Linked DNA regions of Homo sapiens: region 1 is linked to region 2. Evidence: fine-mapped expression QTL. A gene starts in region 2. The other region holds a variant in brackets. All regions are shown on one strand. Distances are from middle to middle. Region 1 has its middle 23 kb from the start of LINC01144. Region 2 holds the start of UROD (uroporphyrinogen decarboxylase).

Evidence for each region. PIP is the estimated chance that this variant, and not a neighbour inherited with it, causes the effect.
Region 1: its variant is fine-mapped to the expression of UROD in monocytes after LPS (Quach 2016, PIP 0.95). The same link has a PIP of 0.9 or more in monocytes after R848.

The regions. Positions count from the first base shown.
Region 1 is chr1:45,279,350-45,282,257 of GRCh38, forward strand. No RefSeq gene overlaps it. Among named protein-coding and RNA genes, the nearest start is that of LINC01144, 23 kb to the right of the region's middle. The variant CT/C (reference allele first, on the strand shown) is at 1,116.
Region 2 is chr1:45,010,518-45,013,425 of GRCh38, forward strand. UROD (uroporphyrinogen decarboxylase) reads left to right here and starts at 1,737. Exons shown (of 10, transcript NM_000374.5): 1 at 1,737-1,768; 2 at 2,390-2,502; 3 at 2,619-2,698; 4 at 2,775-2,837. The coding sequence starts at 1,749. HECTD3 (HECT domain E3 ubiquitin protein ligase 3) reads right to left here and starts at 807. Exons shown (of 21, transcript NM_024602.6): 1 at 372-807; 2 at 29-189. The coding sequence starts at 740. RefSeq lists silencers at 474-643, 724-853 and enhancers at 1,614-1,663, 1,704-1,833.

The DNA.
Region 1 (2,908 bases), 270 kb after region 2:
ACATATTAAAGGGATTATGTAACAGAAACAAATGGAATTTATTCCTGGAATGCTAGGATGGTTGAACATATGAAAATTGAAAAATGTTATATACCACACTAACAGAATGAAGGGAAGTAAAATACATGATCTGCTCAATTGATGCAGAGAAAACAACAGACAAAATTTGATACCCTTTCACGATAAAAAGCACTTGAAAAACTAAGAATGAAGGAAAACTACATCAACATAATTAAAACCATATATGAAAAACCCACAGGAAATAGCATACTCAGTGGAAAAAGACTGAAAGCTTTTCCTCTAAGATCAGGAACAAGACAAGATTCCCACTTTTTTTTTTTTCCAGATCTGCAGCAGGAAGGGATGCCCACTTTCACCATGTCTGTTTCACCACTTCTTTTCAGCATAATGGTGGAAGTTCTAGCCAGAGCAATTAGGCAAGAAAAAGAAAACGCATCCAAATTGGACAAGAGGAGTAAAATCATCTGTTTGCAAATAATGTGATTTTATATGTAGAAAACCCTAAAGATTTCACAAAAAACTGTTAGAACTAATAAATGAATCAACAAAGTAGCAGGATATACAGTCAATATGCAAAAGCACTTGCATTTCTATACACTGACAGTGAATAATCTGAAAAGGAAACTGGAAACAATTCCGTTTACAATGCTTAGGAACTAAGTTAACCAAAGGAGTGAAAGATTTATACAATGAAAACAGCAAAACATTGCTGAAAGAAATTAAAGAAGTTATAAATGGAAACACATCACGTGTTCACGTATTGGAAGACTTAATATTGTTAAATTTTCTGTACTACCCAAAGCAATCTACAGATTCAATGCAATCCTTATCAAAATCCCAATGACATTTTTAAATAGAAAAATGCATTTTAAAACTAATATAGGGGCCGGGTACAGTGGCTCATTCCTGTAATCATAGCACTTTGGAAGGCCAAGAGGGGAGAACCTCTTGAGGTGAGAAATTTGAGGCTGCAGTGAGCTATGATTGTGCCGCTGCATTCCAGCCTAGGTGTAGTGGCACAATCGTAGCTCACTGCAGACTCAAAGTGGCACAGCCATTATATCTAGGGATTTTCTTTCTTCCTTTTCTTTTTT[CT/C]TTTTTTTTTTTTTTTTTGTTGTTTTTTGAGACAGAGTCTCCCCTGTCTTCACTCTGGAGTGCAGTGGCACCATCTTGGCTCACTGCAACCTCCGCTTCCCAGGCTCAAGCTATCCTCCCACCCCTGTCTCTTAAGTAGCTTACAACAGAGCAAGACTCTGTCCATGAAAATATAAATAAATGGCTGGGTACGGTGGCTCACGCCTGTAATCCCAGCACTTTGGGAGGCCAAGGAGGATGGATCACCTGAGGTTAGGAGTTCAAGACCAGCCTGGCTAATGGGGCAAAATTCCATCTCTACTAAAAATACAAAAGTTAGCCAGGTGTGGTGGTGCGCACCTGTAGTCCCAGCTACTTGGGAGGTTGAGACAGGAGAATTGCTGAACCCAGGAGGCAGAGGTTGCAGTGAGCCGAGATCACGCCACTGCATCCCAGCCTGGGTGACAGAGTGAGACTCCGCCTCAAAAAAAATAAAAAATAAAATAAATAAATAAAAATTTTTAAAAATTCAGGCCAGAAGTGATGGCTTACACCTGTAATCCCAGCACTTTGGGAAGCTGAAGTGGGAGGATCACTGGAGGCCAAGAATTCAAAACCAGACTGGGCAACATAATGAGACTCTGTCTCCACAAAAAAACAAATACAAAATTAGCTGGGCATGGTGGTGGGTGTCTGTGGTCCCAGCTACTCTGGAGGCTGAAGTAGGAGGATCACTTGAGCCCAGGAGTTTGAGACTGCAGTGAGCCATGATCATGCTACTGCACTCCTGCTTGTGTTACAAAGCAAGACACAGTGTCAAAAAAAAAAAAAAAAAATTACTCAAGCCCTGTCCCACACAATGTGGAAGTCTGTGCTAAAAAACTTTGTGTTTTGTATATTCCTTGGAAAAATCTCGTGTTCCCCTTATCTCTGCTTCTCCTGTTCTCCAGCTCATGATGACTTCTCTATTTGACCTAAGGTTCTTCCTTGGACCTTCCCATCTTCTCATTTATTCTCCTCACTGACCCCCTCTCTCCAACTTTCTCAGGCCTATTCCCCCAGGCTGCCCCAAACTCCAAATTCCTCTCACTTCTTCCTTTCTTGAGCAGAGCAATTCTGCTCTCTTTATCTCATACCTCCCCCTCCCTTCCTTACCCCTCCCAAGAATCACTGGCTGTTTCCTCAATAAAAAGAACCACCTGGCCAGGCGCGGTGGCTCACGCCTGTAATCCCAGCACTTTGGGAGGCTGAGGTGGGTGGATCACTTGAGGTCAGGAGTTCAAGACCAGCCTGACCAACATGGTGAAACTCCATCTCTACTAAAAATACAAAATTATCTGGGCGTGGTGGCGCATGCCTGTAATCCCAGCTACTCGGGAGGCGGAGGCACGAGAATAGCTTGAACCCTGGAGGTGGAGGTTGCAGTGAGTGAGATCATGCCATTGCACTCCAGCCTCGGCAACAAGAGCGAAAAAACAAACAAAAAAGAACCACCTATCCGTGCTGCGAATGTTGTCCCTTCCCTGGAAGTGATAATAAGCCAGGAATTATCTTTCTGAAGAGCAACATTTTTCCTTCCCACTATTACATAGAGAAAATCATTCCTTTACCATCACCATCTGCCCATCCTCTGTGCCTCTCCATACACTGTTCCCTCTGCCTGGAACACCCCACACAATCCCCAGCACCGTCACTTGGCCCATCCATCATACGAAACTTCAAGTCTCCCTCAAACATTACGATCCCCAGCACCTCTTACATTTGCTGACTGAATAAATAAGTAAATTATGTCTTCTCAACTCTCAAATACAAA
Region 2 (2,908 bases):
GCCAGCCCCGCTCCTTCAAGTGCAGTACCTGAGCACCGGCCGATAATCCACGCCAAAGAGCTGCTGCTGCCGCTGGAGGTGGTTGGGAGTGTCGATGGGTACCAGGCGGGCTCCGCCCTCCGCCGGGCGGCACACCAGCAGCCAGCCTTCCTGCAGCCCGCAGTCGCCCAGGTGCTCTGCCAGCTGCTCCTGCCGGGACGCGTAGGATGGGGACAGCCGTCAGGGAACTGCCCAGCCGCCTGTCGTGCCCAGCCCAGGGCAAAGGGCGCCGAACGCAATGCCAACTCAATACAGGGGAGAAAAGGCAAACAGCCAGAGGTTTCTCTGGCCCCAGGGGTCTTTTACCGGGTCCTGGGCAGGGAAGAGCGCACCTTTGTCAGCTTCACCCAGAGCCCGTGGCCATTGCACAGCTCCTCGCCCGTGGTGCGCACGCAGGCGCCGCGCCGGAGCTCAATGCTGTCGCGGGCGGCGCGGAGGGGCCCGGAGCCGGTACCGGGGGCTGGGCCTGCGGCGCCCACACGCAGCCCCAGGCCCTCTGCCTCCCACACCGGCAGAAGCACGCGCGACGGTCCCGCTGGGTCCTTGTAAAGCTTGTAGAGCACCTCTCGCGGCACGAAAGCCAGCGCTGCTGGCAGCGGCCGCCCGGCGCGGAGGCTCCGCGCTGCCTCTGCCAAGAAGCGCACGCGGCCCAGCAGCTGCCGGGGGGACTCCAGCACCGCGCCCGGGCCAGGACCCGCCATGGCGAAGTGGCGGAGGTGAGCACCTAGAGGCGACCCTGCCCGGGGAACAGCTGGCGCGACCGCGGACAGAGCTTCCCACCACGCCCTTCCCCGCCTTTGGCCAGCCTTTGCCGTATGTTCTGGACTAAGCGCACCCCAGCTCTCACTGTATTGGACTGTGTACTCCCACACTCAACCATATTACTTATCTCTGTGCCACCCTAACCCAGCCGACCAAACCCAAGATTGGTGATTGCTACCTGATCAATCTCCCTCTCTCCATTTCCTTGTGACTACCATTTTATCTCTACTGCTACTACCCTCATTCAAGTCACCATTCTAGCTAGCCTGGGTCATTGCCAACAGTCATTTTTCTGGTTCTTCGGCCTGCTGTTTTTCCTCCCACTCCCAGCGAATCTGCTGGACTCCCTATCCTATGGGTGGTGTGATTAAAGTGTTTGAGACAATGGCCCCTTCCCCTGCCACTGACAGGAGTCTTGAGTCATTAGGGTTGATTCTGTTTGTCACTCCTAATCCCAAGGACACTGGAGATCATTATTCATTTTAATGTGATTGCTGATTTCTGTTTCCCCAGTCTTGTAGCTCCTTAAAGGCTGGGGCTGTCTTGAGCAGAGCTAACCTCTGCACCTACTATAGGTCCAGGCTATAGTATGGACCTGGCTGGATAAGACTGTTGGTATCATGAGTGGGACTTGCGCCAAGCCTCCGGATACCCAGACTGTCAGATGAGAACAAATTCCTCATGTCACCGTAAGATACATTTACAGCGGAGTTTTCTTTTGGGCCTTTGTTGTTGCGTCGCTACAGCAAACTTTACGGTGAAAAAAGGTAGGGGTCCTACGGGCAGCAGCCAGGGCAGCCCTGGAGCTGTCGCTGGAGTCCGATCATGTGATCTTCAACATGGCGACGCTCTTGGTTCCCTACAGAAAGGGGCGGAGCCTGGACTGGGGGGCAGGCTCAGATTCAGGTTAAATTGTGGATTGAGCTCGCAGTTACAGACAGCTGACCATGGAAGCGAATGGGTTGGGGTGAGTTCTCCAGAGCACGCGGTGTGGCTAGCCGGGCTTCTAATTTGAGTCTTCCAACTCAGGACTCTATCCCTCTACTCCCCTTTCCCCACCCTGGAGACCTCCCAACCTGAACTCCGTTAGCTGGGATCCTGAATCCTAAAACCATGGATTTTTGAGATGTTCATCCCAGGGCCTTAATTCAAGGGATGCCTCAGGATTTCCAACCAGGATCTCTATTCTGGGACCATCAACTCTGATCCCTCTTTATCCCCCAGCCTGGGTATTTCTCAGCCCCTGAACCAGCCCAGTGACATTCCCGTTTCTGAGGCTCACTAGTTCGAAGACCCCCAAACTATCCTTAGTGGGCCTTCATTCCCTCCCCCCAGTCCCTCTGGTTGCTTCGAGCTTGGAAGAGTAGAGACTAAGTGGAGGGAAGAGGCCCCAGGGCGGGCCCTTCTGGAGTTTGTGCACCACCTGATAGGCAGAGAGGAGGCGGAACGGGCGGAAAGCCAGGGTTTGGGAGCTGGCCTGGAGGAGGTAGATAGCGGTCCTGGACTGAATCGGCCTTATGAACCCGCGCTTTCCCCAGCCTCCAGCGTAGCATACTGACACCTACCCCCACCCCCACCTGATCGCCAGACCTCAGGGTTTTCCGGAGCTGAAGAATGACACATTCCTGCGAGCAGCCTGGGGAGAGGAAACAGACTACACTCCCGTTTGGTGCATGCGCCAGGCAGGCCGTTACTTACCAGGTAAGAGTCAGGGTCTGGAAATCTAGATAAAACTCCGGAGGGAGAAAAGTTTTCGAGGGGCAGGGGAGGGCTCTGGAGGGCCTCAAGGCTGAGCCCTGTCTTCCCTCTGTATGCAGAGTTTAGGGAAACCCGGGCTGCCCAGGACTTTTTCAGCACGTGTCGCTCTCCTGAGGCCTGCTGTGAACTGACTCTGCAGGTGAGGGGTCCACAAAAGAGGGAAAGATTTATGCCTTCAGTCTGCCACCTAGCAACCTGTCTCCTGTTTCCTACAGCCACTGCGTCGCTTCCCTCTGGATGCTGCCATCATTTTCTCCGACATCCTTGTTGTACCCCAGGTACCCACTCAAACCTGATCCTAGAATATAATCCAAGGACGCCTTGAAAATCCTTCTATCAGTCCAGTCAA